Linked DNA regions of Homo sapiens. The protein of the gene in region 3 interacts with the protein of the main gene of each other region in a pairwise test. Each region holds a gene or a part of one and is shown on either strand. Other genes may lie near its edges. The genes, in order: GPR75-ASB3, MGARP, MECP2 and COPS3.

The links.
Region 1: the proteins of MECP2 (region 3) and GPR75-ASB3 interact in binary tests that used the Homo sapiens proteins (3 or more experiments, as listed by UniProt).
Region 2: the proteins of MECP2 (region 3) and MGARP interact in binary tests that used the Homo sapiens proteins (3 or more experiments, as listed by UniProt).
Region 4: the proteins of MECP2 (region 3) and COPS3 interact in binary tests that used the Homo sapiens proteins (3 or more experiments, as listed by UniProt).

What each region holds. Positions count from the first base shown.
Region 1 is NC_000002.12:53,669,037-53,675,561, reverse strand, and holds the end of GPR75-ASB3 (GPR75-ASB3 protein), read left to right. Parts: intron 1-4,871; coding exon 4,872-5,059; 3' UTR 5,060-5,269; downstream 5,270-6,525. Other genes in the region: ASB3 (ankyrin repeat and SOCS box protein 3), read left to right, coding at 4,872-5,059. UniProt on the Homo sapiens protein: Probable substrate-recognition component of a SCF-like ECS (Elongin-Cullin-SOCS-box protein) E3 ubiquitin-protein ligase complex which mediates the ubiquitination and subsequent proteasomal degradation of target proteins. Recognizes TNFRSF1B.
Region 2 is NC_000004.12:139,269,579-139,277,928, reverse strand, and holds part of MGARP (protein MGARP), read left to right. Parts: intron 1-2,536; coding exon 2,537-2,640; intron 2,641-8,350. UniProt on the Homo sapiens protein: Plays a role in the trafficking of mitochondria along microtubules. Regulates the kinesin-mediated axonal transport of mitochondria to nerve terminals along microtubules during hypoxia.
Region 3 is NC_000023.11:154,087,118-154,095,467, forward strand, and holds part of MECP2 (methyl-CpG-binding protein 2), read right to left. Parts: exon of another isoform or gene 7,261-8,350; intron 6,433-7,260; exon of another isoform or gene 5,093-6,432; coding exon of another isoform or gene 5,067-5,092; intron 1-5,066. UniProt on the Homo sapiens protein: Chromosomal protein that binds to methylated DNA. It can bind specifically to a single methyl-CpG pair. It is not influenced by sequences flanking the methyl-CpGs.
Region 4 is NC_000017.11:17,270,927-17,279,276, forward strand, and holds part of COPS3 (COP9 signalosome complex subunit 3), read right to left. Parts: intron 5,258-8,350; exon of another isoform or gene 5,239-5,257; coding exon 5,109-5,238; intron 83-5,108; coding exon 1-82. UniProt on the Homo sapiens protein: Component of the COP9 signalosome complex (CSN), a complex involved in various cellular and developmental processes.

The DNA.
Region 1 (6,525 bases), on a different chromosome or scaffold from region 3:
TACTTCTCCCATTTAGACCTTATTTCAGCTACATCCATGTATCAGAATAAACTGGGCTTAGAACCAACTCTTTGAATTGCTAGATCACTAAGAATTACATTAATAAAGCCTAGTCAATCACCTTGTTCTTGTTAAAATATTAATATTTAAAGGAGTCTTATACCTTTAAAAATGAAATTATTTAAAGTATATATCTTATTTTATATTGGCTTATTTTATTTTATAGTACAAATAATGTTTGGTTAATAGTATACATGTAATTTATATGTAAAATATATATTGGATTCTGTGGTCAGAGACTTTACTAATTTAGTGTGTAATCAAAACATTTGGAGATCACTAGATTCTGTGGTGCCTGGGATTTGTGTGGTGTTTCACTTTATGAAATGCTTTTGCAAATGTGTTCCAACTTGAACATCATCAACAGCCTTTTGATGCAGGGAAGTGTCATTATGCCCATTTTGTAGATGAGGCATTATTCTCATTTTATGGAAAGGTAACTGAAAGTCAGAATATTTAGATGACTTGCCCAGGGTCACACAGCTAGTTAATAGTGGCACCTCAGCGCCAGCACAGGTGTTACTACTAGATGGTGCTTTTCCATTTAATCCATTCATTGCCTCTACTGGTCATTCCTTTATACTGGCCATTCCTATTGTTTTGACTTCATGTCCTAATCTATTACTTGTTTTTCAGAGTTCTCAGGTACTTGCTTTTTGTGTTTTTTCTAGCGGTTTTAGTTATAGTCAATGAGAGAGACAACACAAGTAAATTAAGAAAAACTGGGAACAAAAGGATGGATACCAACGAGAAAGACAATATATTAATGATGAAAATAAAAATGGTAGTAGGTGTCTCAGAAGTCAGATAAATGCATTTGATGTGCAAAACATTTCAAAGGAACCAGAGAAATGTAGTTCAGGCAGATAGGTTGTTTGAACATTGGCCTGAGGGAAGGCTAAAGATGAATGTAGAAAATATAGTGGGTGTGTATGATATAGATATAGTTTTGTGCTATAGTAAAGTTGGCATTTATAAGCATAATGAATTAAGAATTGTGACGTTTATTTTGATCATTGTGTGTGCTTTTGATTTTAACAAAACTTTGTATAACAACATGTAGTCTTCTATTTTGATTGTTCTGCCAGTACATATAACAAAATGAACAAAATAGAGGAATTCTGTATAGGAATTAAAAGTTAAATATTACTCATCTGCTAATAGATCTATGGATAAACTAAGTTTAACATATTGAATAAAAATGATTGGGTCAGAAAAGTGACTTAGAAGTGTAGCATGGTTTCAGACGTCATTTTCTAGGTTACAATCACTGCCATAATCCAAGAACATGGAGATGTATTTAACAAAACTAAAATATAGTTTTAATAGGTTTTCATGAAAGTATGTTTTACATACAGCTTCTGTGGCCTTTTTCGTATTATAAATTCAAGGCATGGCTTGATCTTCTAGCCTAGTGGCAACACGTCTGGAAATAACTATGCATCACTAAAACTTTCATAGGGATTTTGTGTGCTTTGAAATATTGCATATATGGTTATAAAATTCCCTTAGTATTTACTGGCATATTAAACAAAAATGGCACTGACAGGCATATTATTGTCTGTGTTAATAATCTACACATGAAACACTCCCTCAGTTCAGCTGAACATAGTTCTTACCTCTAATTGTTCATTAGGCCAGTGATCTGTTGTGCTCTTAGAAGGAAAACCAAAATGGTGCAATTAAAATTTGAACCAATACCTGAAGTAGCTATACTTTTCCTTTTTTATTATTAAATGGAAAGATATTCTGAAATTTATGATAGTTTCAGTGGTTTAGAAGATGTTGGAGAATTATATTGAGCTTATCATAGTTTAAAGAACCCTGGACTGGGAGTCAAATCATTGAGATCTAGTTAACAACAGCTATGTTGTTGATGTGCCACATCTCAGTGGGCAAGTCAGTTACGCTTCTCCTAACAAATGCGAACTGGTCTAGTGTGGCTTGATCACTAATGGTTAAGCTTCTACACATAATTAGCATAAACAAATGATTTATTAAGCTTTAAAGATAGACCTCCAGTGATGTAGTCACATAATCTAGAAAAGCTGGTCAGCACTACATTAAGTTTTAGGGTATCTGGAGGAATCTTCCCAGTCAGCCCATAGAATTTTAAGCCAGTGTAGTCTGTCCACTCTGAGAAGCTGGAGCATCATTAAGGATCCCTTATCTCCATGTGAGCAGCTCTCCTCCGGGTTGCACAGCCATCCTTTATCTTCCTTCTGGTTGTGTAGTAAGTATTCATGTTCCTAAGAATGTGCAGAATGAAGAGATTCAATTTAACAGATGCCTGTTAAACTCTAACTGAATATAAGTAGAAATTCTCTTTAAAAACACACACTGGATTAAACAGTCTTGTCATTTTCTCTTTCATTTCCATCTGACTATGTCCATTGGCATGCTCTGTGTTTGCAGCTGGCCAGCTACACTCTAGAATGCCAGTGTTCCTACCAGCAGAGGTGTGTGCTTACCAAACAGCAGTTATGCTTATTTCTGAAACTTTTTATTACGTTGTGCATATTATTGGAGTTAAATAATTCCAGATTGCACAAGCTAATGAATTATGAGTGTGAAAAGAGAATCATTGTTGCTGTTAAGGCAAAGTAGAATGCAAAAGACTTGATAAAGATAAGCACAGAACAGAAATAGATATTGAATTAGACGTGGCTACAACAACTGAAAGCAAAAAAACCTGTAAAAATATGGAAGGATTATGCACTCACCTTGTTTCATACATGCCTTTAAATCCATGCTGTAACTCAAAGAAAGTGAAACTGTGTCCTTATTTATATAGTGGTGAGTAAAAAATACATAAATAAACTGCAAGCCATAGATGTTGCATTCTAGATGTGTTCATGTATCCATTTTAAATTAGAATGTTTAAAGTATGTATGGTTGTTGTGGTCACCTGCTTTAAGGTGAGTTTCTATTAACTGACCAATTATTGTTCATGATCCTACTAAGAGGGCTTCCTTATACTTGATAGTTGAACATAGTCAATCTACTTAAACCTTTGGAAAACGGTGGTGTTTGCAGCTTGGGCCTGCTTTCCATATGTATTCCTGCAACTTCCTCCAGTGGCCCCTTTACCTGTGTCTTCCCATCTTTCATGTGAGAACCATCATTTCTCCTTTAAGTTTACAGAAAAGTGTCAAATTTAAGTAAGATATGGATATGAAAAAAGTTAGAAATAAATGTGCGTGCTATATACTATAGATACTGTAATCTTATTATTTATAATAGGGAATCTATGACTCATGATTTAAGAAAATGCCCAGCTTAGACTTAGGTTTTATGTACAAAATCGATAACTTTTGCTTTCTTATTTGGCATTTTGAAACACCAGTTTGAGTGATTTCTTTAATTCTGAATAAACTAAACTAAACCTAAACTAGTAAACTAAAAACGATGATGAGTTAACTTCTATGGCTTGGAAGATATTGAAGATGTTAGAGAATTAATTGGTCTCAAGCCCTATGGGTATTAGAGTTTAAAGAACCCTATACCTGGAATCAGACTAGCTGGTCTGGTATCAGCTGTGCTCTTGATAGTACTTGTCTTTGATGCTCTGATCCTGGTCTGTTCATCATTGTTAAATTTCACAGGGATTTATAAAAGATTTCTTGAATTAACAAAAGGCTTTGGTCCGATTCACATAAAAGCAGACATTAACTTCTTTATTTAACACTTTTCATCTTGGAAAATGAAACTGCTATCATATGATTCTTTTCTTTTTTTTTTTGAGAAGGAGTTTCCCTCTTGTTGCCCAGGCTGGAGTGCAGTGGCATGATCTCGGCTCACTGCAACCTCCGCCTCCCAGGTTCAAGCAATTATTTTGCCTCAGCCTCCCTAGTAGGTGGGATTACAGGCATGTGCCACCACGCCAAGCTAATTTTGTATTTTTAGTAGAGACGTTGTTTCACCATGTTGGTCAGGCTGGTTTTGAACTCCTGACGTCAGGTGATCTGCCCGCCTCAGCCTCCCAAAGTACTGGGATTACAGGCATGAGCCACCGCGCCTGGCCTATCATACAGTTCTTAATTATGTGCATTTGAATTGTCCTTTAATTGGTAGTTAGCTTTTGGCTGCACTGCCTTGCCAGATACACACACACACACACACACACACACACACACACACACACACACGCTTTGGGTTCAGATAGATCTGAGTTTGAATCCTGGCTCTGCTGCTTACTAGCTCTGTGACTTTGGAAAGTTGTTTTTTTAAATTTCTACAACAGCCTGATAATATATACTTCATGAAGTTAATGAAGATAAAAAGAGAATTTGAGTGAAGTACATGGGCTTATGGCATAGAAGGCACTCAGTAAATACTCCCTTTCTCTCAGAGTCAATTAAAAATTTTCATTTTATGTTATGGATAAAAAGGAAAACTTGCAAGCTGTACATCTATTCACTTGATGTGATAGGTCTGGAAACCATTTGTAATGAAATAGATTAAGAGGAAGGTAGCATTTGCTATTGTGAGCTTCCACCATTTCTAAAGTTGGTTCATCCATTTCTTAAGTGCAGGTATTAACAGATCTTTAGAATTTGAGCATTTAGTGTTTGCGGCCCTGGATACTGACTTTGAATGTGTGGCCAACAAACTGAAGGGAGAGGAGCCAGTTGAAGGCTGTAGAAAAGAATAAATAAGGTTTATTGTGGTCATACTGACTCAAAGTAGTCTTCTTTCAAGCAATATATCACTTTTATTACTAAGAGTTGGGGGAAAAAAAAATTTACCTTTATGTGCTATTACATCTTTCTGTTTAAAAAAGTTTCACCTTGCTTTTTTTGTTTCTCCAGCCACTGTTCCATCCCTGACCCATCTTTGTCGTTTGGAAATTCGGTCCAGTCTAAAATCAGAACGTCTACGGTCTGACAGTTATATTAGTCAGCTGCCACTTCCCAGAAGCCTACATAATTATTTGCTCTATGAAGACGTTCTGAGGATGTATGAAGTTCCAGAACTGGCAGCTATTCAAGATGGATAAATCAGTGAAACTACTTAACACAGCTAATTTTTTTCTCTGAAAAATCATCGAGACAAAAGAGCCACAGAGTACAAGTTTTTATGATTTTATAGTCAAAAGATGATTATTGATTGTGAGATAGGTTAGGTTTTGGGGGGCCAGTAGTTCAGTGAGAATGTTTATGTTTACAACTAGCCTTCCCAGTAAAAAAAAAAAAAAAAAAAAAAAAAATTGTAAACATCACTTATATTACTTTATTGCAGCTTCATCACCAGTACATTATATGTTGTAATATTTATTTACCTGATCATTTTGATCATTTTCTGCTTTATTTTGCTAATAAACTGTGATGTTACTTCTAGTGCTAAACATGGCATATTTCCACCTATGATTCGTGTTTACCTGGTATTAGGAGCTCAGAATGGAATGCATAAAGCTTCACTGGAAGTGTATACAACTGTGGTGTAGAATCTGTTATTATTATCATTATTATTTTATTTAGACTTGACTATCTCTTATGTTTATTAAAGAACATGTTTTCCTATTCAGTTGCTTTTTTTTTTTTTTTTTTTTTGGAGACAGAATCTTGCATTGTCACCGAGGCTGGAGTGCAGTGGTGCAATCTCGGCTCACTGCAACCTCTGCCCCAGGGTAATTCAGTCACTTTTATGAAGAATTGATACTCATTGCCGTTTCACATGTAAACTCACAGGAAAAAATTACTTTGAAAGAACATAGAAAATCAATCATATTGCTGGGTTTTCCCTTCCAGTTTCTTTTCATTCTTTGGCAAAACAAACAAACAAACAAAACCAACCAACCCAATTCTAATCTGCAAAGGCAAGAACAGCCCTAAACTCAAAGATGTGCTCAGCTGGGAAAAAAAATGGTTTCAGTTTTGAGATAAATGGGCATGTTAGCACAATTAGGATTTTAATCAGGAGACTGAGAGGGGCATGTCTGTGGCACCATCTTTAAAGAAAGAAAGGGGCCGGGCGTGGTGACTCACGCCCTTAATCCCAGCACTTTGGGAGGCCAAGGCAGGCGGATCACGAGGTCAGGAGATTGAGACCATCCTGGCTAACATGGTGAAACCCCATCTGTACTAAAAATACAAAAAAATTATCTGTGCATGGTGATGGGTGCCTGTAGTCCCAACTACCCTGGAGGCTGAGGCAGTAGAATGGCGTGAACCTGGGAGACGGAGCTTGCAGTGAGCCGAGATGGCGCCACTGCACTCCAGCCTGGGAGACAGAGTGAGACTCCGTCTCGAAAGAAAGAAAGGTAGGTATTACCGAGTTACTTAGTATTATATATAAAATTCAGGTTCCATTCAGCTCTAGAATCATTGAGCAGCTTTGTTCCTATGAAGCAGTAATAGCCAGTTCTACTAATATTATGGTGTTTTTCCTTCTTATTATCTAGATAAGCTGTCAAACAGTCCATGAAATAAAGACCTCAGAATCCTAGATTAATGAGGCGCCACC
Region 2 (8,350 bases), on a different chromosome or scaffold from region 3:
TAATGAATAAATAATTTAGATTTATAATAGATAATTGGGGAAAAACAGGTAAAATAAAAAATGGAATTCACCTGTAATCCTACCACTCAGTGAACACAACTAATTACGTTTTAGTATATTTAGTTTTCCAGACCTTTTTTTTCCCCTCATTCCTTCCTTGTGCACATTATTTCCACAAATCTTGGATAGTCCCAGAGTATTTTGCTATGACTTTTCACCTAATACATTGTAAATATTTTCTCATGTAAGTAAATATTGTTCTGCAAAAGTTATGTCTATTTGTTTCACATTGTATGAATGTGCTAAAATTTGTCTAATTAATCCTTATTGAAAAATTTCTCATTTCATTGTCTTTTTAAGTAACTTGTCCATCATTGTATTTGTATTTAAGTCTACTTAAATCTCTGGTAATTTTAGTTCTATTTAAAAAATATTTCTGATATTTTTGTCTGTTTGAGAAATATGAAGGCTATATATTCCCTATTTGATCACAGATGTACTTTTAAGCCATCAGAAGTCCCACCACAAGTCAAAGCGATAACCTCTTCTCATAGCCTTTGGGGCACATTAGAAGGAAAAAAATTTTTTTCCAAGAAACGGCCATTTATATCCAAACTAAGAACATAAACAGGAAATCGTTGTGATTTTGCTACTATGAAGGTTTGTAAGCATGCCTTAAGATTCGCCCTGTGCAAATCATAGCTTTCCACTAGTCCCTGCACCCCTATACTTTATGTTAGGCCACATCAAATTGCAGGTTGGACATGCTTAATCCAAAAATCTAAAACACAAAATGTTCCAAAATTAGAAACTTTCTGAGCACTGACATGATGCCACAAGTAGAAAATTTCACATGTAAGTACTTAACACAAACTTTGTTTCAAGCACAAAATTATTCAAAATATTGTATGAAATTACCTTCAGGCTATGTGTGTAAGGTGTATACGAAACATAAATGAATTTTTTGTTTAGACTTCAGTCCCATCCCCAAGATATCTCATTATGTGTATGCATATATTCCAAAATAAAGAATATCCAAAACCCAAAACACTTCTGGTCCCAAGCATTTTATTTTATTTTAATTATTTTTTTGGAACAGAACCTTTCTCTGTTGCCCAGGCTGGAGAGCAGTGGTACAATCACAGCTCACTGCAGGACTCAAGTGATCCTCCTGCCTCAGCCTCCCAAAGTAGCTGGGACTACAGGCACATACCACCACTCTCAGCTAATATTATAAAATTTTTTTGTAGAGATGGGGTTCACCACATTGCCCAGGCTGGTCTTGAAATCCTGGGCTCAAGTGATCCTCCCACCTCTGCCTCCCAAAATGTTGGGATTACAGGCATAAGCTACTGCACCCACTGCTAGCATTTTAGATAAGGGATATTCATCCTGTACTTTGTACCTTCTGGGTCACGAATCTCTCATGCTTTTATACGTTACACCTTCTGCCTCCAGTGCCATTCCTCTTTCCCTTATTTTCCTTCAAAACTCAGGTCTCTTCTATTATGACAACTACCTTGGCCAGCTAGTTGAGTTTTACTCTGCCTGTAGCTTGGCTTAACACTTATTACATTTGTCATACTGTATCACAATTATTTGTATGTTCATACCCTCCTTCTAGACTGTGAATGGCTTGAGACTAGGGACCTTATCTGTCTTGTTCACGGTTATATTCTTAATGCTTCTAACAATTCCAAATACGTAGTAGATGCTCAGCTGTGTTAGTTGAAAGAATACATAAATGTGTTTATGTCTTTATTTTTAAAATAAAGAATTTGAGTTGTATATACTTTAAGCTCCTTCCGACTTTAAGTTTATTGTAAAAATTTCAATTCCAGGGCATTATAGGATATGCAAATGTTAGTACTACAAAATAAATGTTTAAATATAATAATATAGTACCTTTATCTGTTTCTATTAGTTTATACAGAATTGTACTTCTATTTCAGATACAACCTTTCTGCAACATTTGGCTTAAAAACGTTTTATCTGCCCATATTTGCTTTATAAGAGAAAAATTGAGATTTCTTTCTATACCTACATGTGTATTATAGATTTATAGAAATATGATGGATTTCAACATAAATGCTTGATTTAACATATAAATACAAATTGTATTACATTTTAGGTATAAACATACTGAATTCATTTTTTAAAAAATAATATTTTCACTGAATCCTGTAGTGGAGTACATATAGTACATGGCTTTCTCTTGCTAATGTGCACTTCATTTGGCTGTTAAAATTTTTTAGTGCTTTTGTCATTTCTCCTTACCCACACCTGCACCCCTTCCAAGAAGGCATGATGCTCAGCATCAAGATGACAGGTTTCATGAGTGTTTATCAAATTAGATTGGGAGACTGTCAAGTGGAATTATTACCCAGCCTCGTAATACTGTATTCCCTTAAGCTAAAATCACTTGATGTTAATAGATTCTAGGTTCACTGAGTAGAAAAATTTTGAAAGATGTAATTATTTAAAATAGTTTTGCTCAACTAGTGAAGCTAACTGTGTTTAAACATTTTTTTCCTAGCATCTCTGCGCCGGATGTCATCTAACAGATTCCCTGGATCATCTGGATCAAATATGATTTATTATCTGGTTGTAGGCGTCACAGTCAGTGCTGGTGGATATTATGTAAGTGATTATATAACCACAGTGCTCAAGAATTCATGTATTTTACAACTCATGGTAAAGCTCAAAGCAACGTCAAGATCAGGACATGAGATTAATTAAATATACAACATAGCAATAGATTTAAGTGTCATTAAGCATACACATCTGAAAAATAGGTGGCAATCATTAGAAATACAGGGTTTTCATAAGAATATATTAGCTAGACTATTATGAAGGTTTTTCTTTTTTAGTTTATTTTTAAGTTTTATTTCATTCGAACCTCAGCTTTCTAAATTATGAAGATTTTTGTATTTGTAAAGTCAGCATTTCTTAATACCATTAATATGGATGATTTTCAGTAAAAATAATTTTATTATAAATGCTAATAGTGATAGCTGATACTTGAGTGTTTATCATATGCCAGACTCCTGGATCATTTAATAATTACAACAAGTCTACAAGGTAGGCACTATTATTAACATTTTAAAAGAATTATTTTGAAAGATTAACTTAAAAATTAATATAGGAGCTGGGTGCAGTGGCTCACGCCTGTAATCCCAGCACTTTGGGAGGCTGAGGCAGGTGGATCACCTAAGGTCAGGAGTTCGAGGCCTGCCTGGCCAACATGAGGAAACCCCATCTCTACTAAAAATGCAGAAATTAGCCAGCATGGTGGTGTGTGCCTGTAATCCCAGCTACTTGGGAGGCTGAAGCAAGAGAATCTCTTGAACCTAGGAGGCTGAGGTTGCAGTGAGCCAAGATCACATCATGGCACTCCAGTGTGGGCAACAGAGTGAGACTCTGTTTCCAAAAAAAATTTAAAAAAATTAATATAACTATTAAAAAAATTAATAGATCTTTTTTTAGAGCAGTTTTAGGTTTACAAAATAATGAGCAGAAAGTACAGAAACTTCCATATAACCCCTCACACCCCCTCCTCCTTTCCCCTATTAAAATCTTGCACTGATGTGGAACATTTGTTAAAACTGACAAGCCAATATTGATATATTATTATTAACTAAAGTCCAGGGTTTACATTAGGATCCACTCTTTGCGTTGTATGTTCTGTTTTTACAAATATATTACAATATCATCCAGAATAAATTATAGTATCATACAGAGTCGTTTCATCACCCTAAAAATCCCTCTACTCCACCTACTCATTTCTCCCTCTCTCCTCCCAATCTTTTTACTGTCTCCATAATTTTTGTTAGTTTTAAATTTTCACACAGTTTTATTATTTGAAAAATTCATATTTGTTCATAAGTTTCTAAAAAATGCAACATAGACATATATAAAGTGAAAAGCATATTTTCCTTCCCAGTCCCCATGTCCATTCCCTCCAGGTAAACCCTGTAAGACAAAGGTTTTAATAGTGAGATTTTGGGACTAAAATGACAGACATTTTTTAGTTAAGTAAGTTAAGACTTGAGTCATTCACCATTTTGTCATAAACTTTCTAAATCAAAATATAATCTTTATTAAGAATAAAAGTAGGCCAGTCATGGTGGCTCACGCCTGTAATCTCAGCACTTTGGGAGGTCAAGGTGGGCAGATCACCTGAGGTCAGGAGTTCAAGACCAGCCTGGCCAACATGGTGAAGCCTCATCTGTGCTAAAATACAAAAATGAGCCAGGCATGGTGGCAGGTGCCTGTAATCATAGCTACTCAGGAGGCTGAGGCAGGAGAATCACTTGAACCCAGGAGGTGGAGGTCGCAGTGAGCTGAGATTGTGCCACTGCACTCCAGGCTGGGTGAGAGAGCCAGACTCTGTCTCAAAAAAAAAAAAAAAAAAAAAAGAATAAAAGTAATGCGGTGGCTCATGCCTGTAATCCCAGCACTTTGGGAGGCTTGAGTCCGGGAGTTTGAGACCAGTCTGGGGAACACAGTGAGACCTCATTTCTACAATAAAAAATAAAAAAATTAGCCCAGCGTGGTGGTGTGTGCCTGTGGTCCTAGGTACTTGGGAGGCTTTGATGGGAGGATCGCTTGAGCCTGGGAAGTTAAGGCTGCAGTGAGCTGAGATTGCACCACTGCACTCAAGCCTGGTCAACAGAACAAGACCCTGTCTCAAAAAAAATAATAATAAATAAAAAAGAATAAAAGTAGAGCCTGTAGTGGTGGCTTACGCCTATAATCCCAGCACGTTGGAGGCCAAGGCAGGAGAATTGCTTGCAGGAGTTTGAGACCTGCCTGGCCAACATAGCGGGACCCCATCTCTACAAAAAATGTAAAGAATAAAAGTAGAATAAGCAGAAATTCTTTGTAAACTCTAAGAGTACACAGTCACTATATTTTGGTTTGGACCTACGGAAATATGAATAAAGCCGGGCCGGTGGCTCACACCTGTAAACCCAGTACTTTGGGAGGCCAAGGTGGGTGGATCACGAGTTCAGGAGTTCAAGACCAGCCTGGTCAAGAAATGGTGAAACCCCATTTCTACTAAAAATACAAAAATTAGCCGGGCGTGGTGGCGGGCACCTGTAATCCCAGCTACTCTGGAGGCTGAGGCAGAGAATTGCTTGAACCGGGGAGGCGGAGGTTGCAGTGAGCCAAGATTGCACCACTGCACTCAGCCTGGGTGACAGAGTGAGACTCCGTCTCAAAAAAAAAAAAAAAAAAAGAAATATGAATAAAGAGATGTTTAGTCATAACTAGAAGCAGTTTCATAGGACTATGTAAGATGGCCAAACCAAACCAAACCAAAATACATATTCTAATCCTCAGAATTTTTTTTTTTTTTTTTTTGGGAGGGGACAGAGTCTCGCTCTCGTCCAGGCTGGAGTGCAGTGATGCAATCTCGGCTCACTGCAAGCTCCACCTCCCGGGTTCACGCCATTCTCCTGCCTCAGCCTCCTGAGTAGCTGGGACTACAGGTGCCCACTACCACGCCCAGCTAATTTTTTTTTGTATTTTTAGTAGAGACGGGGTTTCACTGTGTTAGCCAGTATGGTCTTGATCTCCTGACCTCGTGATCTTCCTGCCTCGGCCTCCCAAAGTGCTGGGATTACAGGCATAAGCCACCAAGCCCGGCCTAGAAATTTTTTTAAGGCTAGTCATAATCTTCAGAATTTTGAGAGCCTCAAGGAGTCAGGAAACTGCAAACTTGTCACTTATATTGTTGTCCTCTACTAATCTGCCAGCTTTCACTTGTGCCCAGATTCCTTTGTTCTGTCATCTTTCTACTGTTTAATGTTGAATTCATGGCTCAAACCCACTCTAGTTGAGGTGTAGGCCACCAAAAAAAAAAAACAGAGATTGAGACTAGGCCATGTGATAGGCTGGGAAGCTAGAAGGATGAATTTCATTTGGACATCACTATACCCCTGATTATATTAATATGTACCAGTGCCAAAAACAAACTTTGCCAGACTGCTAACTCACTGGTTGCAAAAGGAATCTTAAACTAAAAGGTTATACATTTATAAACCAGCCATCCCTGAGAACCCTTTCTGGCCTTGTTCTCTCACAGTAGGGATGGAAGTTGTTCCCTTCCATTTCTAAGTTTATGTGATTTTAATCTCAAATGTTGGAAGCCTTAATTGCCAGGAATCTTAGGCTACTTTCAGGAGGAAATGCTGAATGTAAGGCACTCCAAAACCTGTATACTTGTTCTCCCCTTCCATTTCATGTCCTGTACTAAAATAATCTCTATATTAGATTTTTATGAATTGACCCCACAGATGCTTAGTAGCCAAAAGCAGTTTTCCATTTGCAATCAAAATCCTCGACTATTAGGGGTCATTGGAATCTGAAAGAGGCCCAGATCACTCCAGTTTTTTTGAGGGTCTGGGTATCTCTTGTCCCCCAGGCTGGAGTGCGATGGCGCAATCTCATCTCACTGCAACCTCCGCCTCCCGGGTTCAAGCGATTCTCCTGCCTCGGCCCCCTGAGCAGCTGGGATTACAGGCGCCTGCCACCACGCCTGGCTAATTTTTGTATTTTTAGTAGAGATGAGGTTTCACCATGTTGGCCAGGCTGGTCTCGAACTCCTGACCTCAGGTGATCCACCCGCCTCGGCCTCCCAAAGTGCTGAGATTACAGATGTGAGCCACCATGCCCGGCCTGGTCTGGTATATCTTAAAAAGTAGTACCAGACTGGCTTATAAAAATTGTAGTATATTTTAAATGCTTATACTTAATAAATACTTAATATCATTTGTAAATAACTGCCAAAGTCTAAATTTGAGACCCTCTCTTTTAATAGGCCTTTATTCTACTCTGTGCTCGACTGTGCTGGATTTGGAAAACCTAGATTCTTTGGGCCACACATTAGGGTGAATTATTCTAGTATTGTATCTCTTCAATTCTCCCTAAAGTTAGTCTTTTTTCTTGCCTTGTGTTTTAGCCCCTTGAGCAATGAGACTAATGTCCCTTGGAATGTTGTTCCTGGAATGATCCTTTCAGGGATGTGAACTTGTGTACTGGTTCGGTTTGTGTACTGAGAACTGGGGATACTGACTTATCATATTGGTCCTACAAGGTGTCAGGAACACACACCCTACTCGGAAAATATTCCTTGCTTTTATACAGAAAATGTTGATTATCATTCCCGTTGATCATATTTGCTCTGTATGTTTCAAAGCCAAATGATTCAAGTCTGAGTTCACTAAACCCCGGGAAGTTTGCTATAAAAGGGTCACTTTACATCACTTCTACCCGACATTATAGATTTTCTTTTCTTTTTTTTTTTTTTTTTTTCAGACGCGGTCTCGCTCTGTCGCCCAGGCTGGAGTGCAGTGGTACGATCTCTGCTCACTGCAAGCTCCACCTCCTGGGTTCACGCCATTCTCCTGCCTCAGCCTCCCGAGTAGTTGGGACTACAGGCGCCCGCCACCACTCCTGGCTAATTTTTTGTACTTTTTGTAGAGATGGGGTTTCACCATGTTAGCCAGGATGGTCTCCATCTCCTGACCTCATGATCCGCCTGCCTCGGCCTCCCAAAGTGCTGCGATTACAGGCTTGACCCAGATTTTCTTTTCTTTTCTTTCTTTCTTTTTTTTTTTTTTTTGAGACGGAGTTTCCCTCCTTTCCCAGGCTGGAATGCAATGGTGCGATCTCGGCTCACTGCAACCTCTGCCTACAGGGTTCAAGTGATTCTCCTGCCTCAGCCTCCCGAGTAGCTGGGATTACAGGCATGCGCCACCACGCCCGGCTAATTTTGTATTTTTAGTAGAGACCAGATTTCTCATGTTGGTCAGGCTGGTCTCAAACTCCCGACCTCAGGTGATCCGCTGGCCTCAGCCTCCCAAAGTGCTGGGATTACAGGTGTGGACCATTGCACCCGGCCCCGACATTACAGACATTCTATTTTCACAGCATAATTTTTACACTGTAAAATTGTTTGTAATTAAGTAGTACAATTTTTAAATAAGGTACTTGGTTTCTGATGGTTAAAAATTTAGAAGACACTATATATAAATAAATTTTAGAAATCTATCATCTTACCATTAAAAGTTAAACCACTACCAACATTTTCTTAAAAGCTAAATTAATACAAACAATAGTAACTGAATAATGAGATTTTCATTTTTTATATCATTTTCTAATATGAATACAGGCCAAAGAAGACTACTTAAATATAAAATGAAAGGAAGCCTGCACATTTTGTCTGTGATTAAAATAGCTTTCTTCCCAATACTGTTTCTTTCTTTCTTTTTTCTTTTTTTTTTTTTTTTTGAGATGGAGTCTTGCTCTGTCGCCCAGGGTGGAGTGCAATGGCATGATCTCG
Region 3 (8,350 bases):
GTGCATACCACCAAGCCCAGCTAATTTTTGTATTTTTAGTAGAAATGATGTTTCGTCATGTTGGCTAGGCTGGTCTCGAACTCCTGACCTCAGGTGATCCACCCACCTCGGCCTCCCAAAGTACTGGGATTGCAGGCGTGAGTCACTGTGCCCAGCCCCGTATAACTTTTTACACCACCTTTTTAATTCCGTATTGTCCATCTAACTATTCAAAAAATCATTTAAAAAACCCCGGCCTTATACAAGAAGTCTTTTCCTTAATCGTGTCATTTATTCTATCCCTCTTCCTTTAAGTAAAAAATATTTTCAATCAAAATCAGAATTCGACTTCAGCTTTGAGGGTATTTATTAGATTCAAATAATGCAATTTATAAAAATTACACTTGCTACCCTAAAAATATATTCACTAAAAGCCTTTTCTTTTTTTCTTTTTTCTTTTTTTTTTTTTTTAAAGAGACAGTGTCTTACTCTAAAGAACGAGGCTGCCCAGGCTAGAGTACAGGAGTACAGTGGTGTGATGATGGCTCACTGTAGCCTAAAACTCCTGGGCTCATGGGATCCTCTCACCTCATCCTCCCGAGTAGCTGGGACTACAGGCATGAGCCACCATGCCTGGCCCCTCTATTTTTATCAGGTGTTACAGAAAAGCTTCAAAATCATCATGGAAGAAAATTATCATTTTTACCAGTACAAAACTTTTATTGCATCCCAACCAAGCTAAGATGAATACAGAATTGTTTCAACAGAAGTTACCATTATCATAATTCAAGACAAAAATCAGCCGGCAATTACATGAGTTGGAAAACAAACTACTCTTATGTCACAGTCTACCCTAAAGCTCCAACTTATGTCAGAATTTAAAATACACACACATATACACAACCCTGTGGATTCCTCCTCATTTATGTAAAACCTACTTTTGTGATGATCTGCTATTTTCTTGAGTCTTCTGGAATGAACACTGTAGCCCCACTCCCGGATAAGGAGAAGATACCACTTCCAGGGCTTAGCACTGCCCCTGGCTTGAAGCAGATACTCAAATATTTGTTGGGTGAATGAATGATTGTCTGCTGATAGGGCTGCCCATCAAGCCTCATAAAGAAAAAATTCAGAAAAAAGCAACTTTATAGAGAAAATAGGAAAAAGTTTAAGAGATATTTTGCTCACTTGAAGAAATCAGCATTTGTTAAAGGTGAAGACTGGATTGACTGGTTCATCAAGTGGCTTAGACACAACTGACTAAGTGGGCTATACCTTATCCCACCCCAAAGTTAAATACAAAACAGGTATTTTTTTTTTTAATCACAGGAAAAACACAGGGCAACTTAACTATAAAATTATTATTTTTATTTTTTATTTTTGAGACAGAGCCTCACTCTATCGCCCAGGCAGGAGTGCAGTGGCGTGATCTTGGCTCACCGAAACTTCTGCCTCCTGGGTTCAAGCGATTCTCCTGCCTCAGTCACCCCAGTAGTTGAGATTACAGGTGCCCGCCACCACGCCTGGCTAATTTTTGTATTTTTAGTAGAGACGGGATTTCACCATCTTGGCCAGGCTGGTCTTGAACTCTTGACCTCAGGTGATCCACCCGCCTCAGCCTCCCAAAGTGCTGGGATTACAGGCATGAGCCACCGCATCTGGCCCTTTTGTATGTATTAAATACGTATGTATGAATATAATACATCATCAGGTTTTTTAGGAAGAAAATATAGATGACTATTGATCTGTTGTTAAGAGTAGGAAAGGATTTCCTGGCGGGGCGCGGTGGCTCACGCCTGTAATCCCAGCACTTTGGGAGGCAGAGACGGGCGGATCACAAGGTCAGGAGATCGAGACCAGCCTGGCTAACATGGTGAAACCCTGTCTCACAAATACAAAAAAATTAGCCAGGCGTGGTGGCGGGCGCCTGTAGTCCCAGCTACTCGGGAGGCTGAGGCAGGAGAATGGAATGAACCCGGGAGATGGAGCTTGCAGTGAGCCAAGATCACGCCATTGCACTCCAACCTGGGCGACAGAGCGAGACTCCGTCTCAAAAAAAAAAAAAAAAAAAAAAAAAAGAGTAAAAAAGGATTTCCTAAGTATGAAAGCAAAAGAATAAATCATAACATAAATTTTATATATCAGAAAGACAAGAATCAAGACGTAAGACAAAACAGGAAAATATCTGCATGACAAAGAGTTAACATCTTTAATACATTAAGAGCTATGACAATGATTATTGAGGTTTAGCCTCAGTAATAATCCAAGCGGCACCAATTTAAAAGATGTATATCCAATTCTGGGACGATATGGGAAAATGGCACTTTCTCAGACTGTTGTGGGAACTGGGATAGCCATTTTGGACAGTGATGTGGTGGTATCCACCAGAAATTCCAAGTCTAGGCAGCCATTCTTCAAAATGACTGGCACATGAGGAATTTCAATCCTGTAGCATTTTTAATAACATAGAGAGACAACGAAATGCATGACGGTAAGTCAGCCCTGGACTACACTGCTATTTAAAAGAAATGAGGCAGAGATGAATATATGAGATGGAAAAATGCAGAATATGTATATATAACACCATCCTGAGGCCAGGCACGGTGGCTCACGCCTGTAATCCCAGCACTTTGGGAGGCCAAGGCAGGTGGATCGCCTGAGGTCAGGAGTTCGACACCAGCCTGGCCAACATGGTGAAACCCATCTCTACTAAAAATACAAAAATTAGCTGGGTGTGGTGGCAGGCGCCTGTAATCCCAGCTACTCAGGAGGCTGAGGCAGGAGAATCACTTGAACCCAGGAGGTGGAGGTTGCAGTGAGCCAAGATTGTGCCACTGTACTCCAGCCTGGATGACAGAGCAAGACTCCATCTCAAAAAAAGAAAAAACAAAACAAAACAAAAACCCTCCTGTTAATTACAACACAAAAAGTACACAGTTTAGTCTTAGAAGACTTAGAAGGATCTACATTAAGCTATTAACAGCAGTTATTCTGGGTAGTGGGAGCAGAGATTAAGCGGGGAGCTTTCATTTTTTTACCTGATACTTTTTTTTTTTTTTTTTTTTGAGACCGAGTCTCACTCTGTCACCCAGGCAGGAGTTCAGTGGTGTGATCTTGGCTCACTGCAACCTCCGCCTCCCAGGTTCAAGTGATTCTCCTGCCTCAGCCTTCCGAGTAGCTGGGACTACACGCTCAAGCCACCATGGCCAGCTAATTTTTGTATTTTTAATAGAGATGGGGTTTCGCCGTGTTAGCCAGGCTGGTCTCGAACTCCTGACTTCAGGTGATCCACCCGCCTAGGCCTCCCAAAGCGCTGTGATTACAGGCATGAGCCACCTTGCCCAGCCACCTGATCAATTTTTAAGTGGTTTGATTTTTCTATAAATCCATGTATTATTTTAGTAATTCTTTAAAAAGTAAAAGAAGAAAAATAGATATCAAGCATTTATCTACTAAAGACGGGTACTGTCCTTTGAGAATTCCCTCAAAAGTTCTTTGAAGCTCAAATGGCTACATCTTTCCCATTCATAAGATACTTTTTAAATTTCCTCTTTCTACATTTCTTTTTAAAAGTTTATTTTCAATTAGCTTCCTCAGGTTGAACTCTCTGTACATTTCTTAGGAGAAACTGTATGGTGTCAACACTGCCTGTTTTATAACATCCATTCGTAATCTGTAATCTGAGAAAAAGACTCGTAAAAACCCAAACCACCCTCCAGGCCTAACATCTTCCAGAAGAAACCCATTCACTGCCCATATTACATTTAGTCCACACAATTTCTGAGACAAAGCACAAAGCACTAGCCATACAACTCCCACCAGCATAAATACGTGGAGTACAAAGAATGTCCTGTCAGCTGGGCCCAGAGCACACCCCACAGCAGTAAAAGAGAATGACAATTTGAGTCACAGGATCAGGAGCAGAATCAAATTTGGGACTTGAGGCAGTGTGATGCTCTTCTGGTCTTCCGCTTCCTTCCACACCTTCTATTCTCCTTCAGCCAAACCTTGCCCTCACATAATCCCTAAGCAGGCTATTTCTTATGGATGTCTACAACAGCTTCACACTGAGGTGTCAGAAACCACTAGAGAGACAACAAAGAACGACTTAGGGTCTCAGTCGGAATCACAATGGCCGCATAAGTGAAAACTCACATTTTTGCTTAGGGGAAAAAAAATGGGAAAATTCAATTGGAACATTCTGCTTTACCACACAGAAGTTCTGAAATCCACATGTCAAAACATCAAATGCGGAGTGACCACTAATCAAAAAGACAAAACAAAACAACAACAACAACAACAACAACAAACAGCTTGAGATGTTGAGCCTGAAGGTTGAGAAATTAAGGAACCATTCATTTTTACAAAACTAAAGTCCACACAATGGTGCCAAGTAGTTCAAACTGCAGCTGATACAGCACCTGAGTGTCAGACCTAGAATGACTGGGGCCCCCAGGTTTTTACAAAGTACTCATCCTCCTCTAGAGTCCCAAGAACCAGATGTATATCTGGGTACTCTCTTTAGTTACCATGGGAGGAGTGTAGCAAGCACATGACATTAGCCATGGCCCCCGGTGTTCTGAGACAGCTTTCAGGAGGGTGTCCTTCTAGGGAACCAACCACATACCAGTTCCCATATCTGAAAATGCATTACCACTGCTCACTAATGTTGACCACTAAGCCATTTACCCCAAACCAAAGCAAACACATGCTGAAGACCGCTAAGGCAACAGCAGCAGCGCAAAAGGGCTCAGTGCAAGCGCTCTCAGCTCAGCTGACCTGCTTCAAGGTGAACTGAAGTTGCAGATCACCAGTTCCGGCTCTAATCTGACGCCCGCCCCCAGATCACGCTGTGGCGACCAAGTAACCCTACACACACTGACCTTTCAGGGCTCAGGGAAGTGACTTTTTTTTATTATATGGCACAGTTTGGCACAGTTATGTCTTTAGTCTTTGGGGTACTTTTATACTGTCCAAGAGTAGTATATTTTTTTCCTCTTTTCCTTTTTTTTTTTTTTTTAAAAAAAAAAAAAACAGATGGCCAAACCAGGACATATACTAAAAAAAAAAAAAGGAAGGTTACTTACCTGAGCCCTAACATCCCAGCTACCATGGAATCCTGTTGGAGCTGGTCTACAGAAGCAAGGTGTATTCTGGGGAGTCACATGTCACATCAAAGCAGGAACTGGTGAGTCTGTATTTTTATGGAGCCTAAAACAAAGAAAATTGTAAGTTGAAAGCCCCCATTGAGCTGCACGACCTTTTTCCCAGGGCTATTTGGGACATTTTGAAGATAAACACATAGACAAAGTACTAGGCTATTTCCCAGCTTACCTAGCTAGAAACAAAGGATAAGCTGCAAATTACTGGCACGTAACACACAGTGCTAAAATAAAGGAAAGATTCATGCTTGTTAGAATCAACACTATCACAAGCCTTGTCACCTCTAGGGGACACTTCGACACTACAAAAGCATACCATGAGTGGCGATTTCTGGCAAGTATTTCTTCTACCACGGCACACAGAAATTCTCAGGGAAGAATACATGTTCAAGAGAATACGCAACATCAAAATACCATCCCTGAAAGAACACATGGAACCTAGAGGCAGTCTCCCTTCTTTTTCAAGCAGCTGAATGAAGTTGCAATAAGCTGCTGTAACAACATCACATAAAGGGGCTTTAATCCTGAGAGAAAAAATCAGCACCAAGGGAAACCAAGTGCTCTGGGAGACCCAAAGCCATCATCCAAAACATGCAAGTCTATTTCAGGGCAATCAGTTTTAAGCCTCTCAGATCAGTCAATCTCGATGTTCAACAAACTCAGTTATTAGTTTGATAGTTTCTCTTTTTCTTTTGAACACATGTTCAAAAAAGGACTTTTGTCAGTACCTTTTTTGTCATTAAGATAACCATCATTTCCTAGTTAAAGCCTAAACTGCCCCATATGAATTAGCTAATTTCTGATACTATGCTGGCCCAAGAGTAGCACTTTTATAAGCTAAAAACGAAAGCTCAGAGCATACAACTTAGAGACTATTCACACAATTACTCATGTAATCAAACCCAGAAGAAGGGCAACACCAACCAAGTCTTTTACTGGTCTGTTGCTGCTCTACAGCTACCAGGATGGTACCTAAAATTATCTTTTGAGGTTCAGTGAGGCCTCATAATTCCCTTAAACAGTCAAGTCATAGAATACTTTGAAATCCCAGAAGTCAAGTTAATAGTATTACTCGGCTAGCTATATAATAAAAACCAAACTGGTATCCTGGCTAGGAGGCCCTGGAAAAGTCACAACTTCTCAGGGACACAAGTTTTTTTTGTTTGTAAACTGATGGTGCTGGACTAAGAATCCTTCTAGTTCTTAAAGTTTAAGATAATTAACTTAAGATTTCATGTCAAAAAGAAAAGAGCCAGAGGCTGGGTGCGGTGGCTCACGCCTGTAATCCCTGCACTTTGGGAGGCTGAAGCGGGTGGATCACGAGGTCAGGAGTTCAAGACCAGCGTGGCCAAGATGGTGAAACCCCGTCTCGACTAAAAAAAAAAAAAAAAAAAAAAAAAAATACAAAAATTAGCCAGGCGTGGTGGCAGGTGCCTGTAATCCCAGCTACTTGGGAGGCTGAGGCAGAGAACTGCTTGAGCCCGGGAGGCAGAGGTTGCAGTGAGCTGAGATCGTGCCACTGCACTCCAGCATGGGTGACAGAGTGAGACTGTCTCAAAAAAAAAAAAAAAAAAAGAAAGAAAGAAAAGAGAAAATGAGAGCAGTTTATGAAATCTAAAAAAGAAAGTTAATATATATATAAAACACCCCTAGCTCTTGGGCTAGGAAGACAAGTGCATCCTTACTAAGGCTTGGTCCTGTCAACTTCAGAGGCAATAATGAGAGCCCAGACTACAGTGTCTACAGTAACTGCAAAACAGCCACACAGCACAGCGGGAACACATTCACACGCCAGGAGACCCAGCATACATGTGCTTGAAGAAGTTATAAGACTCAGGCTTTATTCTCTAACGAAATGGTCATTCCCCCTTTGATGTGGGGGTGGGGGTGGGGATGCCCTGCCCACCCCCCAATTCCGGCTCCCACTCAGTTATCCCACATACCATACATACCATCAAAGTATTTAAGCAATGGCATGCAAAGCAAGCTTTCGACAGGTTTCTTGCAAGAGAAAGGCAGAAGAGAACAGGTAAAAGCAGAAGAGCACACAGGTAAAAGCAGAAGAGCACAACTTCTACTTAAGCCCAAAGAAGAGGGACCTGTTCACATCTTGTCCTACCCGGAATGATGCACACGCACAGGGGCTTGCCGGGACAGCAGTAGTTTCACTGGAAAGGGCTGGTATGGAGGCACCGAGGACAAGGTCCTTCCATCGCAGCGGTGATAATGCTCTACCCAAGAAAAAAAGATTGCGTCTGCCAGCCACGCAAGACTGGTCTGCAAGGATGTCACCATAGCAGAGGGCAGGGAAAACAAGCAGGTGTCCTGCCACACTCTTTGGGACTGGCCAGTCTAGGAGTGTGCTTTACCCCACGCACTGAAAACACTGGTTACTAGAAATATCAAACATTTCCTGTGATTCTCTCCTCCAAGATAACTCGGGCAGCTTGAGAACAAGCTGCTCTTAGCTAATTAAAAGATTTCTGCTGATATTAACCTTTATAAAAGATTTCAGGTTCCAGGACACGTCATTTATCATGCAGAGTCCCAAGCAGGTACATTAGCAATGGAAACCAGGCTCCAATAAGGAACTAACAATTTTATCTCTGTTGTTCTTTATTTTAGGTTAAAGAAATGAACTTCTCGTTTCATCTCCACATGGGAGGAATGTTCTGGAGGGGGTAACAGCCTATTAAACTCATCTAGCTTTTTTTTTTTTTTTTCAAACTCCACAGCTTGCCTCCCTACCCTACTAGACTAGATTGCACAGAGGCAGGGCAGGCACGGGAAACGACTCTGGTTGGAAATTACAAACATATACACACAGAATGCAAGCACCATAACCCTTTGAATACACAGTGGTTTGTGCCTTGCCCCAGACCTACCTAAGGATTTAAACAGCACAGAAGTCGGAGTTCGGCTGACTGCATGACACTCTCCTATCAATCGGGTGAAACAAAGACCCAGTACTCTAAGCTTAAAGCATTCCAGGCAAAATTTTAGTTAACAGGCAATAGGAAGGTGTGATAGGCCAGTGCTAACAAGAAAGCCACAGATGGGTTTCTTTGAGCTGTTAAGACACTGGAAAGGGCTGGTATGGAAGCCCAGTGGAGCCATTAGGACAATGGAAAAGGAGGTACCCCTCCACCAGGCACTTTGCAGAGAAAACTATACTCTGGAAGCTGCCTGCACTGTTGATAGGGCTAGAC
Region 4 (8,350 bases), on a different chromosome or scaffold from region 3:
ATTACAAGTGCTGATGAAGAGCTGAACCTGTGAGAATAGCGTTTCGAAGTCAGGAACACTGGGCATAGAAAACTTCACAAACCTAGAATAAGGAGAAAAGAATCAAATTACCCTGATAGTTCATGGGATAAAATACAGAAACAATGTATGCAAGAAATCCATCCTGCCTCCAATACTCTGTAAAATTAAATGAGCAACAGTATTTTTTAGAATTAAGAACTAGGCCAGGACAGTGGCTCATGCCCGTAATCCAAGCACTTTGGGAGGCTGAGGCAGGAGGACTGCTTAAGGCCAGGAGTTTGAGACCAGTCTGAGCAACATGGTGAGACCCTGTCTCTACTACAAAAAATAAATTAGCCAGGCGTGGGGGTACATGCCTGTAGTTGCAGATACTTGGGAGGCTGAGGCTGGAGGATCACTTGTGCCTAGAAGGTTGAGGCTGCAGTGAGCTATGATCATGCCACTGCACTCCAGCCTGGGTGACAGAGCAAGATCCAGTCTCAAAAAACAAATAAATAAGAACTAGAATCCATGAGATTTTCCTGACCTGGTTATTTTGCACAATCACTATACAGAACGGACACAAATAAGGGTTAAGAAAAATATGTTTAGGCCTGGCGCAGTGGCTCATGCCTGTAATCCCAGCACCTTGGGAGGCCAAGGCGGGAGGATCACCTAAGGTCGGGAGTTCGAGACCAGCCTGATCAACATGGAAAAACCTCGTCTCTACTAAAAATACAAAAAAATTAGCCGGGCGTGGTGGTGCATGCATGCCTGTAACCCCAGCTACTCGGGAGGCTGAGGAACTGCTTGAACCCGGGAGGTGGAGGTTGCAGTGAGCTGAGATGGTGCCACTGCACTCCAGCCTGGGCAACAAGAGCGAGACTGTCTCAAAAAAAAAATCTATATATATCTATATATATATATATATACACACATACACACACATATGTTTAATAATATATATTAAATAATAAACATGTATATATTAAACATATATGTTTTATATATATATATATGTTTAATAAGGAACAACTTTCAAGATGAAAAATTCCACTAAATGAAGCCAAATAGGCTGGGCATGGTGGCTCAAGCCTGTAATCCCAGCACTACGGAAGGCCAAGGTGGGCAGATGGGCAGATCACAAGGTCAGGAGTTCGAGACCAGCCTAGCCAATATGGTGAAAACCCATGTCTGCTAAAAATACAAAAATTGGCCAGGCACGGTGGCTCACGCCTATAATCCCAGCACTTTGGGAGGCCAAGGCGGGTGGATCACCTGAGGTCAGGATTTCAAGACCAGCCTGACCAATCGGGTGAAACCCCATCTCTACAAAAAATAGAAAAATTAGCCGGGCGTGGTGGCAGGTGCCTGTAATCCCACCTATTTGGGAGGCTGAGACAGGAGAATTGCTTGAACCCAGGAGGCAGAGTTTGCAGTGAGCTGAGATCGTGCCACTGCACTCCAGCCCGGGTGACGGAGTGAGACTCGTCTCAAAAAAAAAAACTCCTTTATGTTTATACAAATCCTGAAAATTTGTTTTAAAAAATGGCCATCTCAATTGTGGGGACTATAGTTTGCATTTATCTGAATACTTTTATCCATGTAATCCACAGGAATGTCCACATTTTCTAAATTAAAAAGAAGTTCGGAGGAGTACTGCCACAGGGCATGGCAGAATACATTGAATGAAAATATTGGCTGGGCACAGTTGCTCATAATCCCAACACTTTGGGAGGCCAAGGTCGGAGGATCATTTGAGGCCAGGAGTTTGAGACCAGCCTAGGCAACATAATATGGCCCTATCTCTGCAAAGAATAAAAATATTAGCTGGGTGTAGTGGTACATGCCTATAGTCCTAGCTTCTCAAGATGCTGAGGTGGGAGGATTGCTTGAGCCCAGAAGTTCAAGGCTTCAGTAAGCTACAATTAAGCCATTGCACTCCAGCCTACATGACAAAGTGAGACCTTTTCTCAAAAAAAGAAAAAGTATCAAAGATCCAAAGCAACATTGCTTAGAATTCCCTTCAAACAAATTTAAGCTATTTAAGACCAAATTAAATAGACCTTATTTTAATTGGGGTTCCTTGTAACCGTGTACTTGACAGTAGAATTCTTTTTCTCTTGATGTTATAGTATTATAAATTGGGATATTGTGGTTGTCATGACATTTGAAATGATATAAATAAACTGAGAAGAAATTGACTTAAAGTGAGAGTCTGGCTTCACTTACGCTGGGATTCCTGAGACAAAGGTATGTGTCCGGAGCAGAGTTTAGAGAAGAAGCTTTGTCAGAATGGAAGGATCTAGAGTTATGCTCTGCAGTATGGTGGCCACTAGCCATATGCAGCTATTTAAATTAAAATTAAAGATTCAGGTGCACTTGCCATGTTTCAAGTACTCAGTAGCCACATGTGGTCACATGTCCTTGTCTTAGCACAGGTTTGTAACATTTCCACCACTGCAGATAGTTCTATTGGACAGTGCTGGTAAGGATTTCTACTGTCTGTATTTTCTTATTTATATGAAAGAGCAGATGCTGGGCACAGTGGCTCACACCTGTAATCCTAGCACTTTGGGAGGCTCTGTTTGAGACCAGCCTGGGAAACATAGCAAGACCCCATCTCTACAGAAAAAAAAAGTGGCCAGGTATGGTGGCTTATGCCTGTAATCCCAGGACTTTGGGAGGCTGAGATGGGCAGATTGCTTGAGCTCAGGAGTTCAAGACCAGCCTGGGAAACGTGATGAAACCCTGTCTTTACAAAAAAACACAAAAATTAGGCGGGCGTGGTGGTGTACACCTGTGGTCCTGGCTACTCAGGAGGCTGAGGTTGGAAGATCACTTGAGTCCATGAGATTGAAGCTGCAGTGAGCTGTGCTCATGCCACTGCACTCCTGACTGGGTGACAGAACAAGACCTTGTCCCCCCAAAAGAAAAAAAGTTAGCTGAGTGTGGTGGCACATGCCTGTGGTCCCAGCTACCCAGGAGGCTAAAGTGGGAGGACTGCTTGAGCCTGGGAGGTCGAGGCTACAGTGAGCTATGCTTGCACCACTGCACTTCAGCCTGAGTGACATCAAGACCCTATCTCAAGAAAGAACAGAGAGCATGCATGTTTTATACACACATAAACTCACATAAACATATATATCAGGTGAGTAATGGACATGAATGCATTTTGAAGGTATAAGGTGTTTACCGTTGTATATGTTAGATAAGGTATGGAAAGAACCCTGAGCTTCTGGCTGAGGACCCTGGTTTTGAATCTACATATTCTTCCAATTTTGAGTTGTGGGGCCCTGAGCTTCATATTTTTATTTATAAACTGGCAGTCGCAATGCCTCACTGACCTATTGTGAACCCCAGATGAAATTGTTTCTGACATGTCTTGATAATTACAAAGTGTAAATACAGATGTATGGTGACATTGTTAAGTCAAATAATACAGTATAGATGGAAGCAGATAAACCAAAAGATGTAGTAGAAATTATGATTAGCTTTTCTTTTTTTTTTTTTTGAGACAGAGTCTCACACTCTGTCACCCAGACTGGAGTGCAGTGGCGTTGTCTCAGCTCACTGCAACCTCCGCCTCCCAGGTTCAAGCCATTCTCCTGCCTCAGCCTCCCGAGTAGCTGGGACTACAGGTGCATGCCACCACACCCGGCTAATTTTTGTATTTTTAGTAGAGACAGGGTCTCACTATGTTGGCCAGGCTGGTCTTGAACTCCTGAACTTGTGATCCACCCGCCTTGGCCTCCCAAAGTGCCGGGATTACAGATGTAAGCCACTGTGTCTGGCCTAATTTTTCTTGAAATTACATTTCAATCGTGCTTTTTTTTTTTTTTAAAGAATTTGAAATTTACTTACAACCAATGCCTTAATAGTGCTAAGTTTACATGATTTCTCCCCTAAAACCTATCACCAGTGCCTCCTTGGAGTGTTTCTCATGGCAGTCTGAGTTACTTGGGAAGGATCACCTGAGTCCTCCCTCTTCTCACCACTCTACTCCTCTTGTCCTGCCTATCAGTTGTTCTGTCAGTGTTATTCTCAGATAGACCACACAGCTGGTGGCAGCATCTTTAACTTAAGCTGCTGCCCACCTCCAGCCAGCCCATAGCTCTCACTCTTGGCCCCCTTAGTATGTTCTCAAAGCAGGAAAAGCAACAACTGATTTTTTTTTTTTTTTTGAGAGAGTCTCCCTCTGTCGCCCAGGCTGGAGTGCAGTGGTGCAATCTTGGCTCACTGCAACCTCTGCCTTCCAGGCTCAAGCAATTCTCATGCCTCAGCCACCTGAGTAGCTGGGACTACAGGCATGCGCCAACACACCCGGCTAGTTTTTTTATTAGTAGAGACAGGGTTTCACCAGTTGGCCAGGCAGGTCTGGAGCTCCTGGCCCCAAGTGATCCACCTGCCTCTGCCTCCCAAAATGTTGGGATTAGAGGCGGGAGCCACTGTGCCCAGCTGCAACAACTGATTTTATTTTTTTGAGACAGTCTCGCTCTGTCACCCAGGCTAGAGTACAGTGGCGCGACCTTGGCTCACTGCAACCTCTTTATGCCCGGATACATAAAAGAGTTTTTAAAAATGATAAAGTTGAACAAAATATAACAAGCAATTATTAGCTGGAATCAATAAACTGTAACTGCCATAACTTTAGTTTTGCAAAAGAGCTCAATGTTATTTACAATGGTTTACTTTCTACACCAAAAAATAAATAAATAAATAAAAATAAAGCCAGGGCTGGGCGTGGTGGCTCACGCCTGTAATCCCAGCATTTTGGGAGGCCAAGGTGGGCGGACCAAGAGGTCAGGAGATCGAGATCATCCTGGCTAACATGGTGAAACCCTGTCTCTACTAAAAATACAAAAATTAGCTGGGGCGGGTGGCGAGTGCCTGTAGTCCCAGCTACTCAAGAGGCTGAGGCAAGAGAATGGAGTGAACCCGGGAGGCGGAGCTTGCAGTGTGCCAAGAATGTGCCACTGCACTCCAGCCTGGGTGACAGAGCGAAACTCCATCTCAAAAAATATAAATAAATAAATAAAAATAAAGCCAGGAAGTGCACAGTGTTCCATTTTAACAAGCACAGAACTATAAAAGAAGATGCTCCTTACAAAACAGCAAGGACGCCCAAGGAGTGTTCTTGTACATCCAGAGCCCCGAGCACAGTGTCCAGATGGGATAAGTTCTTCGCAAGGAGTTCCCCACTCTTGTTGATCAGTTCACAAAGCTGTGTCATTTGCCCTGGAAAACAGGAACAACACTATTGCATTTCAGCTACAGCACTAACCAAACTGATGGAACTCTAACCACAACTTTGTACTTCAGAGCCTGAAGTTCCCAAAATTGATTCTTAATCTCCTTCACTTCGGATGAGGATCCAGAAGGACCAGAGGAGTGAAACAACCTGTCCGTGGTCTCAAAACGAATTAGAGATTACACTGGACCTCCCACTTCTCTCTGACCCTGAATGTTTCACCTTTTTCTCTATTCTGTTTTCTAGTCTCCCAAGCCAGAAATGCACGTTACTATTAACAGCTCTCTGCATCCAAATGATTTAGTTTTACTTCCAAAGTCTCTCAGCTCCATTTCTTTCTCTCTCCCCTCTCTGCCCTAATTCAGATCCTCATCATTTTTTGTCTGGACTACATCTTTTTTTTTTTTTTAAGATGGAGTTTCACTGTGTCGCCCAGGCTGGAGTGCAGTGGCGCAATCTCGGTTCACTACAACCTCCGCCCTCCAAGTTCAAGCAATTCTCCTGCCTCAGCCTCCCAAATAGCTGGGATTACAGGCGCCTGCCACTGCACCTGGCTAATTTTTTTGTATTTTTAGTAGAGACGGGGGTTTCACCTTCTTGGCCAGGCTGGTCTTGAACTCCTGACCTCATGATCCACCGCGCCCAGCCTACATCATAAATCTTCTAAATGGTCTGCCTACTGTGATCTTTCTCTCCTCCAACCCGCACTCCATATTAGTACTGTCTGTTCTATAAACTGTGCATTCAATCAAGTTATTCCAATGACTTTAAGAAGTGCAAACGCCTCAGCCTGAACTAAGGCCCTTCAATAACTGGTCCCTGCTACCTTTCCAGCCTTATCTCCTGCTACTTCCCCTCACACACCTACTCTTCGATCACAGCAAGCTCAGAAAATCAACATTCTATCTTCTCTCCTCTTTATGCTTCTACACATGCTGTTCTCTGTCCTTCTCCCCCACATCCTCTGCTACCTGACTGAGCCTCATCCAGCATTCAGCAATCAACTTGTGGCGTCTCTAGACCCTCATCTCAGCTCCCTTCCCCATGGCTAAGCTGGGTATCTGCCCTCTCTGCCTCGCATGGGACTGTAGTGGTTAGGTATTTCAGTAAACTCAGGTGGAGGGATTGTCCCTTTCTCCAGCTCTAGAATACATCACCTGCTTAGCAGTTCATCAAGCAGCTACTTGTTGAATTAATCTCCTAATTGATCTATTTTTCCCCTATACTGCAATACTATGTTTGTTTTGTTTTGTTTTTTGAGACAGGGTCTCATTCTGTCGCTCAGGCTGCAGTGCAGTGGTGTGATCACAGCTCAACGCAGCCTCCATCTCCTGGGCTCAAGCAATCCTCCCACCTTAGCCTCCCGAGTAGCTGGAACTACAGGTGTACGTCACCATGCCCATCTTATTTTTTAAGTTTTTTGCAGAGACAGGGGTCTCACTATGTTGCCCAGTCTGGTCTCTAACTCCTGGGCTCAAGCAATCCTCCCACCTTGGCCTCCCAAAGTGCTGGGATTAGAGGCATGAGCCACCACACTCAGCCTGCAATGCTACATTTTAACAACTAAGGTACAGAATCTATTAATAATTAGGCCTCAGCCGGGTGCTGTGGCTCACACCTGTAATCCCAGCACTTTGGGAGGATAAGGTGGGCAGATCTCTCGAGGTCAGGAGTTCAAGACCAGGCTGGCTCACACCTGTAATCCCAGCACTTTGGGAGGATAAGGTGGGCAGATATCTCGAGGTCAGGAGTTCAAGACCAGGCTGGCCAACATGGTGAAACCCTGTCTCCACTAAAAATACAAAAATTAGCTGGGTGTGGTGGCACACACCTGTAATCCCAGCTACTCGGGAGGCTGAGGTGGGAGAATCCTTTAACCTGGGACAATCCTTGAACCCGGGAGATGGAGGCTGCAGTGAGCTGAGATTGCGCCACTGTACTCCAGCCTGGGCAACAGAGCAAGACTCCGTTTCGGGGGAAAAAAAAAATTAGGCCTGAATTGGTACCTTTAAGTAGACCCATCAATTTTGACAATTACTGTCATGACAGATACCATGGTCACACTCTGTCTTTCTGGTAACAGTGAGGATATATTTAAGTCCATGGGCATTAACCTCAAGTTTCCAACTTCTCTATTTCTACAGAGCAACTGCATAATCTTTTCCTTACTAAAAGAATACAACATAGTATAATGCTTAAAATACAAGTGACTATAGCTAGGTACTTTTGATAATTTAACACTTTTCAATTTGATACATTTTACTGAAAGCAAAGGAAATGTATCATTATTATACATGCATTACAAAACAAGAATAAAACAGCTGTGATCTTATTAGGTGTCACCTCTTGAGATCACACAGATTTAACTGGGAAATACCAACTCATCATCATTGTATTACAGATCTCACTGGTAGGTATGAAGTAACTTCTAGTTGAATAATTTGCCTTTGTAAACCATTACTCTAAATATATTAACAATAATTTGTAACACCCAGAAATAAGCATTGCAATCCATTAGTTCTCTACTAGTTAACAATCAGTGCCCAGTTGAGACTGAAATAAAAGCTGGGTCACTATGAAATCACCAGATAATTAATTAGTGCAGGGCCAAGGGCAGAGTAAAAAAAAAAAGTTTAAGTGTCACAGAGTGCATTTGAAATCAGTGTAACCAGAGATGTGGCCAATAAAATTCTTTTTTTTCTTTTTTTTTTTTTTGAGACGGAGTCTTGCTCTGTCACCCAGACTGGAGGGCAGTGGCGCGATCTTGGCTCACTGCAAGCTCCACCTCCCAGGTTCATGCCATTCTCCTGCCTCAGCCTCCCGAGTAGCTGAGATTACAGGCGCCCGCCACCATGCCTGGCTAATTTTGCATTTTTAGTAGAGACAGGGTTTCACCATGTTGGCCAGGGTGGTCTTGAACTCCTGACCTCAGATGATCCGCCCGCCTCGGCCTCCCAAAGTGCTGGAATTACAGGAGTGAGCCACTGCGCCTGGCCTGAAACTCAAAGATTTCCTATCCAGTGAGTGTGAGGCACAGTAGCCGACAGCAATGAAAGTTACCATATTTATCTCTGTCTAGCAGACTGTTCCTATAGCATC